Linked DNA regions of Homo sapiens. The protein of the gene in region 2 binds, or shares a complex with, the protein of the main gene of each other region. Each region holds a gene or a part of one and is shown on either strand. Other genes may lie near its edges. The genes, in order: RABGEF1 and RAB21. A codon is read from its position in the direction of its gene.

What was found.
Region 1: the proteins of RAB21 (region 2) and RABGEF1 are in contact, whole or in part, in a crystal structure (PDB 2OT3), measured with the Homo sapiens proteins. Residues at the interface, in NP_055814.1 of Homo sapiens: Ser19 (codon at 2,747), Phe20 (codon at 2,744), Lys21 (codon at 2,741), Gly26 (codon at 2,726), Glu27 (codon at 2,723), Gly28 (codon at 2,720), Lys32 (codon at 2,708), Thr33 (codon at 2,705), Leu37 (codon at 2,693), Thr50 (codon at 2,654), Thr51 (codon at 2,651), Leu52 (codon at 2,648), Gln53 (codon at 2,645), Ala54, Ser55, Phe56, Ala71, Trp73, Asp74, Thr75, Ala76, Gly77, Gln78, Arg80, Phe81, Leu84, Ile87, Tyr88, Asp91; in NP_001273991.1 of Homo sapiens: Leu253, Cys254, Lys296, Phe299, Asn300, Lys303, Pro309, Ala310, Ser311, Ala312, Asp313, Phe315, Leu316, Pro317, Ile320, Leu347, Met348, Thr349, Gly350, Glu351, Gly353, Tyr354, Tyr355, Thr357, Asn358, Cys360, Cys361, Ala364, Phe365, Ser373.

The regions. Positions count from the first base shown.
Region 1 is NC_000007.14:66,806,580-66,811,983, reverse strand, and holds the end of RABGEF1 (rab5 GDP/GTP exchange factor), read right to left. Parts: intron 4,147-5,404; coding exon of another isoform or gene 4,108-4,146; exon of another isoform or gene 3,099-4,107; coding exon 2,700-3,098; 3' UTR 520-2,699; downstream 1-519. UniProt on the Homo sapiens protein: Rab effector protein acting as linker between gamma-adaptin, RAB4A or RAB5A. Involved in endocytic membrane fusion and membrane trafficking of recycling endosomes. Stimulates nucleotide exchange on RAB5A. Can act as a ubiquitin ligase.
Region 2 is NC_000012.12:71,750,932-71,757,930, reverse strand, and holds the start of RAB21 (ras-related protein Rab-21), read right to left. Parts: upstream 3,069-6,999; 5' UTR 2,802-3,068; coding exon 2,643-2,801; intron 1-2,642. UniProt on the Homo sapiens protein: The small GTPases Rab are key regulators of intracellular membrane trafficking, from the formation of transport vesicles to their fusion with membranes.

The DNA.
Region 1 (5,404 bases), on a different chromosome or scaffold from region 2:
TCCAAAAGCGATTACAGGCGTGAGCCACAACACCCAGCCTTCTCTTGGGTTTTCTACATAAAATAACCATCTACAAATAATAGCTATCATTTGTTCTAAGTTCAGACAACAACCCCATGAAGCAGTAATATTATTAACCCCATTTCACAGCTGAGGGATCTGAAACAAGAGATTTGTTCAGGGCCAATGAGCTAATAAGTAGCAGAATAAAATTCAAAACCAAATCCAAGCCTTCCAGCTTCAGAGTTCATGTCCTCACCAACAGACAATAATAGCTCTATATTGATTACATTAACTCCTTTTTTCTCTACTTTTATGTCTGTTTGAAGACTGAGTACCTTGGTAGAACTGCAAGAACAAGGTTGATTGATTGTGGTGACAGCAAATATTCTTGTCTTCTTAATTTTAACTGACAAATGTCTCTAATGTTTCATTTTTAGGTATAGCTTAACCAGAAAACCTCTGTAGCATGAGAATATTAATAATAATGTATATTTTCCTAAGAAAGAACCAAATCAATTTTTGGAAGAGGGACGGATTGTGAAACTTTATTGATAAAGAATTCCGTTCCAAAGGTGTATTCCAGTCACATTTACCCTACATAAAATACCAACATCTTCTTATTGCAAAAACAGAAACTCCGGCCGTTGTATTGATGCTGACTTAAGAGAAATAGAAGCCTCTATATAAGGCAAGAGTCCATACCAGAAGAATTCGACCAATATGAGATACCTCCAAAAAAATCAACTCAATAACCTACTTTATATGTAAGAGACCCAAAAAAGTCAGCTTTTGTGGGAAGTTGATATGCAGTTTATTGAACAAACAGAGTGTACAGTAACTAAACGAACTGTGTATTTCCAAAGGAATTAAGACCGCATATCTGGATTCACACCTAAAAGCACATAGAAAATTAAACCAAAGAAGGGCAAGTTTTGTACTAAAATCACTTGGGCCCAGGTTATTCTATAAGAAGATTCTCACTGGCATTTGATAGTAACTTATCACCTTCTGTGCGAGCTTGGGAACCAGCTGACTCAGTGAACTGCTTCCTGTCTTCAGTGCGTGATGACACAGATGTGTCAAGCTTAATAGATCTTATATGTAAATTTAAGAATAAGAAGTTTTATACCCACCCTGGTTTTATTCCAAAGTTACTGCTCTGCAATTTTGGGCTCCATCCTTAGGAAGATACTGGAAAAGCAAGAGAACCTTTCTCAGCTGCCTGTGTGAAGTGACGTTGTTCTAGAACGGTGCCCTGGGGCCTCATGCACGATTTCACAAGTATAGCTGCATAATCTGTGGATGTCACTGAATGGAAGAAGAATCATCAATGGTATATTTAGGTTATAGAAGGTTCCACTGAGATAAGAAAAGGTTCTACAATGCAGGTAGCTGTCAAGCCTCCTAAATATTTAACTCGTTTTAGTTAACATCACACTGTGCATTGAGTGCAAGATTCTTTGGTTACACCATATTAACCACCAGGAGGATAACTCCTGGTTTGTAAAAGACATCAGTGGTTCTTAACGGAGGGGTGATATGGCCCCAGGAGACATCTGACTATGTCTGGAGAGAATTTTTCACAGCTCTAGCGGGGGTGCTACTGGCACCTAATGGATATGGATGGCAGGAATGCTGCTGAACATTCTACCATGCACAGGGTGGCCCCACAACAAACACCTCTCAGGCCACTAATATGAATAGTCCCGAGGTTGAAATGTCCTGAAAAAGGTTCAGAAAACATGTCTAGACGTTTGCAAAGTCAAATGTATATTATGGAGGCTGCAAGGCGCCCCTTGCATCTCACAGCTGAGGGACCCCGTCACCTCTCACCATCAGAGGCCCATTCATTCCCGCCTTCCATTCCAGGCCCAGTGCCTGCTCCTTCTCACTGAAGAACTCAATAGAGATTTGCTGAATGAATGAGGGAAAAATAAGCTAGAAGCATAGTTTAAAGTCTTCCATCGACTACATTAAACAGCAATTTTATGTGGCCTAAACTTTATTCTGAACCTTAGTGGTGTCATAGTCTCTGACTATATAGAACCTCAAAGTTAAGGCTAACACGTTCTTAAAGATGGAGTGCACATCTTAAGGGGAGTTTGTCTAAACACTTCTCGAGTCATTTTAGTGGGACAAACCAAATAAAATGGTGCTAAAGGCAAACATTCAATATACTTCATTTTAAACTAAAAAATTAACATATAAAATGCCATGCACAGCAGACACCATTCTTTTTTTTACATATTTACAATTTTACATATTTACTTATCAATATAATTTCTATCTTTACAATTATAAAATTATTCCAAACTGTGGAAGAGTGGTACCATTTAATTTTCTTGAACATACACTTTGTAGCATTCATTTGTTTAATCCTTTAAAAGGCAATTATTTACCAAAACCACAGTGAATGCCAGAGGAAGCACATAGGAAAATCATGGAGGGAAAAAAGATTGAGACAAAATTTGCACACAAGCCTTAAATGAATCTGTATCAGTAACTCAAATAAGTAGTATTTTATTATTAACTAAGGTTCCCCTGCTAGGAAAAACGAAACAATCCCCATATACTGTACCTTTAAAAAATGCTGACATTTATAAGCAATTTAGTTACATTCTAGATCCCAATCAGTTGAGTGTAGTAAGGGCTACCTACAATTTAGGCTCAAATAAATACTCTCCACTAAATTGTGATCATCCTGCATAAACTTGAGGTTGCAGTGGTGGAGGAAGTTTATCATTTTCAACGTTTTCAGAGTCAATAGCTGCTAACGGTTGATTCGGAGGCTTAATTTCCAGTGGGTATTTCTCAACGATGTCTTGAACTTCTCTTGCAATTCCATCTGTCCAATCTATGAGGTCTTTTTCCAGTTTCTTGGCTTCATTCATGATCCTTTCTTGTCGTTCATTCAACTGAGACAAGAGATCCAAGTTCTTATACATTTGCTTGACGCCTAAGCAAGCATCAGGAGACCAACTCTCAGCTTCTTGCTTCCTGGGAGAGGTCTGGCCAGACATGTAGCGATCAAAATCCTCCTGACTTAGATTCAAAGACTGGGCGTCTAGCTTCTCAATGAAAGCCACAGCACAGCACTACAAGAAGAGGACGTTAATACAGTCATATTAGGAAAGCTATGCATACTCGAGTCGATTTGTAAAAATCTTTTGATCACAGACCATTTAAAACAGAAGCTAAAGTAAACAAAACAAACTCATGAACTTCTGTGTATTTCAGCCTCAAAAATTACCTACTCCTATCCCCGGTCGTGCTTCCTATACACTCCCAGGAGCTCCAGGGCCGATGTCTGGGTGCAGCCTCCCCAGGTGCACCATGAAGCCATTCTGTCTGAGTCTTCCCAGACCTGCTATCCCCACCCAGGATATAGTCCCCAAGTAGGTGTGGCACACAGACCTCTGATCCTCAAATGAATATTTTAACATCAAGTGGTTAAAAGAACAGCTCCAGACCGGGCCCGGTGCCTCAAGCCTGTAATCCCAGCACTTTGGGAGGCTGGGACGTGTGGATCATGAGGTCAGGAGTTTGAGACCAGCCTGGCCAACATGGTGAAACCCCATCTCTACTAAAAATACAAAAATTAGCTGGGCGCAGTTGTGGGCGCCTGTAATCCCCGCTACCTGGGAGACTGAGGCAGGAGAATTGCTTGAACCTGGGAGGCGGAGGTTGCAGTGAGCCAAGATCACGCCACTGCACTCCAGCCTGGGTGACAGAGCAAGACTGTCTCAGGAAAAAAAAAAAAAAGGAACAACTCTGAAGTGACTGAACCTGAGTTCACTGTCACCTCTTTCACTTAACAACAACAGTGAGTGACCGTGGGAAAGTTACTTAAGCTCTCTGAGGTTTCTGTACCTGTAAATGGGGGGAAATACCACCTAGATTTATTGTGAGAATTAAACAACATAACATGTCACGTGCTTCCGAGAGGCCTGCAGCGAGCAATGAATACACGGTAGCAATTATTAGTACAGACATGGCACTGCAAATGCCCAATTCAACAGACATCTGAGCCAGGCGTGTTGGCTCGTGCTTGTAATCCTAGCACTTTGGGAGGCCGAGGTGGGAGGATTGCTTGAGACCAGGAGTTCAGACCAGCCTGGGAAACAGTCGGGGTAGAAACCATCTCTAGAAAAAAGGAATAAAGAAAAAGAAAAATCTGATTCATCTGAGTAGAACGGAACACCATCTGGCTCATGGTGTGTGTGGAGTTGCTGTGGCCCCTCTGTGACCTGGAAAGAGGAGGTGATTCTAACTCCTCACTTAGGTGAATGGAGACATGGCATTGCCACTAAAAGGAATAGAGAATACTGGAAAAGAAACAAACATCTGAAGGGGAAGTAGCTCTGAACAAATTATATTTGAGGTGCAATACAAGTGTAAGGTCAAGACAGGTGACCCAGAGCTGCAGGCCATCACTGCACAGTGAGTGACAGCTCTGTGACAGAGAAGATGGTGCAGGAAGAGAGATGCAGAGACAATGGAGTCCCATGGAATGACACAATTCAAGGTGGAAGTAGAAGACACAGACTTTACAAAGAGACAAGGAAGTAGTGGAATTGTGGAAGCCAAGGAACAACAGAAGTTGCAGAACAAAGGACTCTTGGAGAGTGCTATGAGAAGCGAAGGAAGATGAAGACTGTGAGTGCCCGTGGGGTTCGTCAGCTGGAAACTTTTTACTTTTGCCAGAGCAGTTTCATTGGAGCAATGGGTGTAGGAGACAGACTCTGAGTCAGGCAAGAAGAGGACAAAGAGAGAAGGCACAAATGTACTTAAGGCTGCAGGCCAAGGGCACTAGAAGCTGCTAAGTGTGTGCAAGCCAGCCACCTCTACTGTCAGTGACCGTGGCTACGCTCAAACACGTCCTGGTCCTCCTCCACTTCTCTCAATACCTGCCATGTCTCCACCTTCACACTTCTCAGGGACTTCCAGGTTGTCTGACTCGCTTTGGATAAAGAACTGAATCCAAAACGCTCTTCCCTCGTAGGCAAGTGTATGTTTCATTTATATTAAGAAATATGAGGCCAGGTGCGGTGGCTCATGCCTGTAATCCCAACACTGTGGGAAACTGAGGTGGGTGGATTGCTTGAGGTCAGGAGTTCGAGACCAGCCTGGCCAACAAGGTGAAACCCCGTCTTTACTAAAAATACAAACATTAGCCGGGCATGGTGACACACATCTGTAATCCCAGCTACTTGGGAGGCTAAGGCATGAGAATCACTTGAACCCAGGAGACGGAGGTTGCAGTGAGCTGAGATCACACCACTGCATTCCAGCCTGGATGACAGAGGGAGACTCCATCTCAAAAAAAAAAAAAAAAAAAAAGGATATATGAGTACTTCTAATCTCATTCTATATGGGCCACTTAAACTTTTTTCAGTACTAC
Region 2 (6,999 bases):
ATCACTTGACTAAACATTAGAAGACCAAAATAGTGATCCATACATAACTGTCTTAAATTCCTGTCAATCCTGCAATTCTTTGAAATGTATGAGAATGTACTTTATAAAATACAAAGTAGTTTACATAGACAGGTACTCTGTTGACGAGAAAAAAGGTGAACTCTTCCTCTCATATCTTCTGACATGATTTCCTCTCCATTTGGAAATTAAAAGAATACAAAGTTGTGTCTTACAAGTCACATAAATCAAATTCCTCTGAAAAATTGTTAAGAAAGATGAGGTTAACTGGTATCTCTGAAAGAGATTAGACACATTGCTGTTTACATACATTGGTGTACAACAAAATCCTAAATTCTATAATATAATTCAGATATTAATACTGGATATCTACTATAACTTCATCCTCCCCTCTGTGGAGTACAGTGGCTTTTCATATATTTAAAAACCTTTACTCTGCTTTCAGTTTCAAGAATGTTTTAGAAATTTAAAATGGAAGTGTAATTTTTAAGTTGAAAGGGTATGGCCAGGTGCAGTGGCTCACCCCTGTAATCCCAGCACTTTGGGAGGCCAAGGTGGGCAAATCACCTGAGGTCAGGAGTTCGAGACCTGTCTGGACAACATGGTGAAACCCCGTTTCTACTAAAAATACAAAAAAATTAGCCAGATGTGGTGGCGTGTGCCTGTAATCCCAGCTACTTGAGAGGTTGACGCAGGAGAATCACTTGACCCAGGAGGTGGAGGTTGCAGTGAGTGGAAATTGCTGCACTTCAGCCTGGGCGACAGGGCAAGACTCAAGTTATCTTTTGAAAAAAAACGTGGAGACCTCAATTACAATAGTTTTCTTTTATCTTAGATCTTTGCATAAAGGAAAACACTAGATGGGTTATTTATCAATATACCGAGGTAATGTGATTTAATTGCTCAAAATCTGAAGTCAGACAGGGGTTCAAATTTGAGCTTGGACACTCCTGCCCCATTGACTTGTGGTAATATTACTGCCAGCAAAATTACTCAACTAAACGTTTTTCCTCAGCTGTAGGGCTATCCACTAAACTATCCACTTCATAGGGTGTTATAAGAATTAAAGCAAGCAGACAGAAAGCAAGCAAAATAATCAGCACAGTAAGAACTCACTAAATGTTAGCTATTGTTACTACTTTACCTAAGTAAATCTCTAAACTTCCAAATGATCCTAGGTATTTGTCCAGTGAATTTTCTTGATCTAAAACACCAGGCTCTCACTAATGACACTGAACAATAACAATTCATTATTAAAATTTTGTCAGTGTTCTGGTACAAGGATTTTTTAAAAATGCAGTTTCCTGGCACTCACTTTTTCAGATATGCTTTACATACGAGTAAAATCAGAGGAGTAAAAATAGAACATGGAATCAGAGCCAGAGCGTCTTGTAAATTCTAGACTCAGTAGTTTAATAATAGCATCAAACATCCAATGTCACAACAATTAGGAGATTACGCATTCTATTAAGTAGTGTCGATGTTCTCACATACTACACATTTACTAATTAAGACCTATTGTGCAAGTTGGGGCGGTAATTAAAGGCAGACAACTTACACTGGACCAGGTCATCAGTGCTTTTTCTGTATATTTATCCTGACAACCCTATGAGCTAGATACTACTATTATGGCCATTTTAACAGAAGAAACAGGCACAGACAGGTTAAGTAACTTACCCAGTATGACACAGCTAGTTAAATGGATGGAGGTGAGACATGAACCTGGACAATCAGGCTCAAAAGTCCACTAGACTTTACTGCCTTTGACCAAATTGGTAAGTCAAATTAGTAGGATAAATTTCTCCTAATAACATCAAAACTGATTTCTCTGGGAGAGGTGGGGTGAGTACAACTCCCTCAAAGGCCTGGCTTCACTCTCAATCAATGATAACATTTTAACACCTTTCCAATGTACCTGTGGAAGAAAGCCGACCTTTTATTTTACAGGTAAAGAAACTGAGTAACAGCAGCGGCTTTTAGTCTGGGGACCAATTGTTGGCCAGTATTCACTTGATGTTTCAGCGTGGGTCAATCGACCTCGCAGAATATGAGTGACCCGCAAGTCAGACCCACGCAGGCTGCAATGAAACTGCGTAACACGCCTAGGCAAGCGGTCATTTCAAAAAACCTCCAGAGATGGCTCTTTTGCCATTCCTGTTACTCAGGACAAAATGGAACTTGCATAAACACTTAGTCATCAGTAAGCGCTGAAGTTACAAATCACCTAATTCGCAAAATCAAATACGCAGCTAAGTTCCTAATTCTGAAAGAAAGAAAAGGAGCTAACATTTGGAGACTGCAACACTGACACCTGGGACCCAGGAACTGCAGTAAATGGGAAAAAACAGCCCACGGACGGAGACCACAACGTGCGCAGCCACCACGGGGAACACTGGGGACTTTTCAGGGCCCTTCCACTTCCCTCCCAACAGCCTGTCCTCGCGTCTACAGGCTGCCCCGACCTGGTGATTCCCCAGGGCGAATTCGGAAAGGTAAACCGAAGGCGGAGATGACAGGCCTGAGATTTGCCAGCCTACATCCAGGGGACCAGGGCGGCAAAGTTTCCCCAGCCCCGGAGGGGTAGGGGCCCTGAGGCGCCCCCTCCCGCTCCCCGAGGTCCGCACCTGCAGAGTGGTGATGTGCTTGTCGTTAAACTTGTTCTCGCAGTAGCGCAGCACCAGCGACGTCTTCCCCACGCAGCCTTCCCCCAGCAGCACCACCTTGAACGAGTAGGCTCGGCCCGCCGCCGCCGCCCCGCCGCCGCCGCCGCCGGCCGCAGCCATCCCGTCGCTTCCCGGCCGCCCGAGCCCGAGTGTCGCGCCGCCCTCCCGACAGCCGCGGCAGCGCCTTCACAGCCACGGCCGGCTCAGCCCCCACCGCCCCGGCCCCGCCGACCCGGGCGCTGTCCCCACGCCCTCCTCGGGCGAGGCCTGGAAGGGCTGAGGGAAAGTCCGAGAATGAAGGGCCCCAGCCCACCACGTCAGGCACCGGAGGAAAAGCGAAGAACGATCCCTCTCTGCCTCCCTCTAATGGCGTCTCCTTCCTCCTACGTCACACCTCGGGTCACGTGAGCGCCGGTGCCGGGGCGGCCCCTGCGACTAGCCCCAGAAGAACGTGCCTGGACGTGGGCGGGGCTTCTGGGGCATCTCCCGGGGTGGAGCTGGATGTGAGTCGAGCGCCTACTGGCAATCTAGGGCAGAGCCCCGCCGCTTGCGAGCCACCTCTGCTTTTCAGTTGGTGGGAGCCAGCGGGAATAAGGAACCAGGAATTTGAGGCGAGCCCAGCTCTGGTGAAATGAAGGGCAGAACTTCATCGTTTTTGCATGTTCACAATGCTAATGATCTGTCACACCAGAGGTCACTGTAAACCATATCTGCCAAGGTGCCCTTGAATCTCTCTCTGTGGGATCCCGAATCATAGCGCTTCCAAGTTCCTCTGACCGCCTGGTCAACTACTCCATCATCTTTCAAGTCTCAGCTTAAACCGCGTCCCTGACCACCCAATCCTTCCCCCATCCTTCCATTCCCCCACCTCACAAAATTAGGTATTTCTTACCACCAGTATACCTCCTTTACTAGGGCTTTACACACTCCATGGATATTATTAATACTTTGCTAAGTGTTTATCGACTCTCATTAGACTATAGGTTTGTTGAGGGCAAGGTCTGTATAAGAGCTGCCCACCTTTGAATTCCTAACCCCAAGTGCTCTTCAGTTTTTCTGACTTTCATGAAGCCTCTGACGTTCCATGGTACTCCACCTTGAGGTGGCTTGTTCGATGATTGCTTGTTTTTTCTCATCTGCATCCCCATTCTTTTTTGTTTGTTTGTATTGTTAGTTTTGAGATGGAGTATCGCTCTGTCGCCCAGACTGGAGTGCAGTGGCGTGATCTCAGCTCACTGCAGTCTCTGCCTCCTGGTTCAAGTGATTCTCCTGCCTCAGCCTCCCGAGAAGCTGGGACCATAGGCGCCCACCACCGCGCCCCGCTACTTTTTGTATTTTTAGTGGAGACAGGGTTTCACCATGTTGGCCAGGCTGGTCTTGAACTCTGACCTCAAGTGATCCACCTGCCTCGGCCTCCCAAAGTGCTGGGATTATAGGTGTGAGCCACCACGCCCGGCCTGCCTCCAAGAAACCATACTCCTCCAAGAAATCATACTAATATTTCTGAAAATTTACTGGAAACCTGGTGTCAGGTAAACATTTTTTTAAAAATCAAACTTCTTTCACACTTCAAACCAGGTTAAAAAAAAAAAAAGAGGCCGGGCGTGGTGGCTCATGCCTGTAATCCCAGCACTTTGGGAGGCCGAGGCGGGCGGATCACAAGGTCAGGAGATCGAGACCATCCTGGCCAACATGGTGAAACCCCATCTCTACTAAAATACAAAAAATTAGCTGGGCATGGTGGCACAAGCCTATAATCCCAGCTACTCGGGAGACTGAGGCAGGGGAAGCGCTTGAACCCGGGAGGCAGAGGTGGCAGTGAGCCGAGATCGCGCCACTGCACTCTAGCCTGGCGACAGAGGAAGACTCCGTCTCAAAAAAAAAAAAAAAAAAAAAGAGAGTCGGTTAATTCATTCAACAAATATTTAAATGTGCCCACCATATGCCAGGCACTGTGATCAACAAGATAAAATGTCTCTGTCCTCACAGAGCTTACATTTTATCAGGGAAGACAGACATACTCAATTGTACAATAAATGCTTTCATCTTGATGAAACAGTTCAGAGTATCTTGCAAGCATATATGAGAACCCAACTGATTTAGCATGCTAGAGAAGCTTTCCCTGGAGAAAGTTATCTTTGGGTAAGAGTAACCTAGTCAGGAAGGACAGGAGAGCTCTGCAAACAGAGATAACAGCATGTTCAATGGCTTTAGATAGGAAGGAGCATCTAAAGTTGAGCAACTGTAAATGTGACTAGAATTTAGGGAGGAAAAAAAAACTCCAGAAGAGACCATGAGGAAGTTGGGGATCAATACTGAAAGGGTCTTTAAGCAAATGAAGGATTTTCGTAAGATGACTGACATAATCAGATTTGACCACTCTGGCTATCATTTGAAAAGTGAATTGGAGAAGGATAATATTTTAGATTTGTTTAGAACCAACCATTAAAGAGACTCTATGTTTTATAAAATATCCTCATGATTGTATCTAAAGATATATTTTCCAACTCTCTCCTCCACATTCCTCCCCTTAGGGTCTTTGCACATTTATAGACACTTCCAGAACTAGAAAAGAACTTCATTTTGAGAGAGCACCTTCCATTGTTCTTTCTGAGCACTTCCTCATATTGGATTGAAATCTGCCTCTCTTCACCTGCAATTAATTATTTCTGTTTATATTTATACATTATATATCGAATCCCTATTCCCTATAAACATATGAAGAAGGCTGTGTGTTCTTCCTTTAAGCCTTCTCCTTTCTTCTTTTTGATACAGCCAATCCTTTCAACAACTTTTCAAATTGTGTGCATTTGATTATTTAACAGCTTGGTCATCTTAGAAACTAAATGCATTACTTTGCATTTATCACTAAATCAAAGCAATTAAAAATTTTTTTATTGTAAAACAAAATAATTTTTTTGTGAGACAGGATCTCACTCTGCTGCCCAGGCTGGAGTACAGTGCCACAATCACAGCTCACTGCAACCTCAACCTCCTGGGCTCCAGCAATCCTCCCACCTCAGCCTCCCGAGTAGCTGGGACTGCAGGTGTGTGCCACCACACCTGGTTAATTTTTTAATTTTTTTTGTAGAGACGATATCTTGCGTGTCTTGCTGTGTTGCCCAGGCTGGTCTTGAACTCCTGGGCTCAAGCAATCCTCCAGCCTCAGCTTCCCAAAGTGCTGGGATTACAGGTATAAGCCACCACACTCAGCCAAAATAATTTTCGAAGTTAAAATAAGTTTTTACATTTAGCTTACGTTGACATTTAAGAAGGTAGTGCAAGTTTTCATGGGTTACAATAAGTAGGTTGGCATACTTTTGAGCACAGAGTGGGTAAATATAGATGTAAATTGTAATAGGCTGATAACGGCCCCTAAAGATATCAGCTCCTAGATTCCGGAGCCTGTAGATGTTACCTTATTTGGGAAACAGGTCTTTTTGATTTAAGTTAAGGATCTTGAGATGGGGAGATTATCTGGGTGGGCCCTAACTGCAATCACAAGTATCCTTATAAGAGAGAGGCAGAAAGAGATGCTTCACACCCAGAAGAGGAGAAGGCAGTGTGACCATAGAGGCAGATTATGGAGCAATGTAGCCATAAGCCAAGGAATGCTTACAGCCACCAGAGCTGGAAAAGACAAGAAGCCCCTAGAGCCTCTGGAGGGGGTTCAGCCCTGCAGATATGCTGATTTTAGCCTAGTGAAACTAATTTTGATTCCTGACCTCCAGAACTAAAAGAGAATAAATGTGTGTTGTATTAAGCTACCAAGTTTGTGATCATTTGTTACAGCAGCCATAAGAAACGTACTTAAGTATGTTGTGAGAAAACAAGTAGCCCATAACAGTCAAAGCATTGAAAGAGATTCAGGCCAATTCTGGGATAGATTCTACGCCCTTAAGAATTTAGGTCAGTCTTAGAGTCAACTATGATTGGTCTGTATAAACTTAACACGGACTGCCACAAAAAAAAAAAAACACTAGAGCTCCAGTTCCTCCGTAGAGAAGAGCTGCAAAAATATGGGGACACTTCAGTGAGTGCATAACTCAAAACATATTCCTGAATGGTGAGGACTGAGGCATGATAGGGTGCAAATTCATGTAGCTCCTCTTCCCCCAGTAAAAAACAGGAATAATTATACAGGTGAAATCAAGTTAACAATGAACATGCAGCACAATATCAAATGGGGAAAAATTGTTGCACAGAGGTAAAATGCAGCTTTAATTCTGTAGGCGGGAAAGAACAACCTCACCCATTTTGTGGTGGTTATAAAGTTGAGTTTATGGACTACTTATAATGTATATGAGACCTAGTTTTT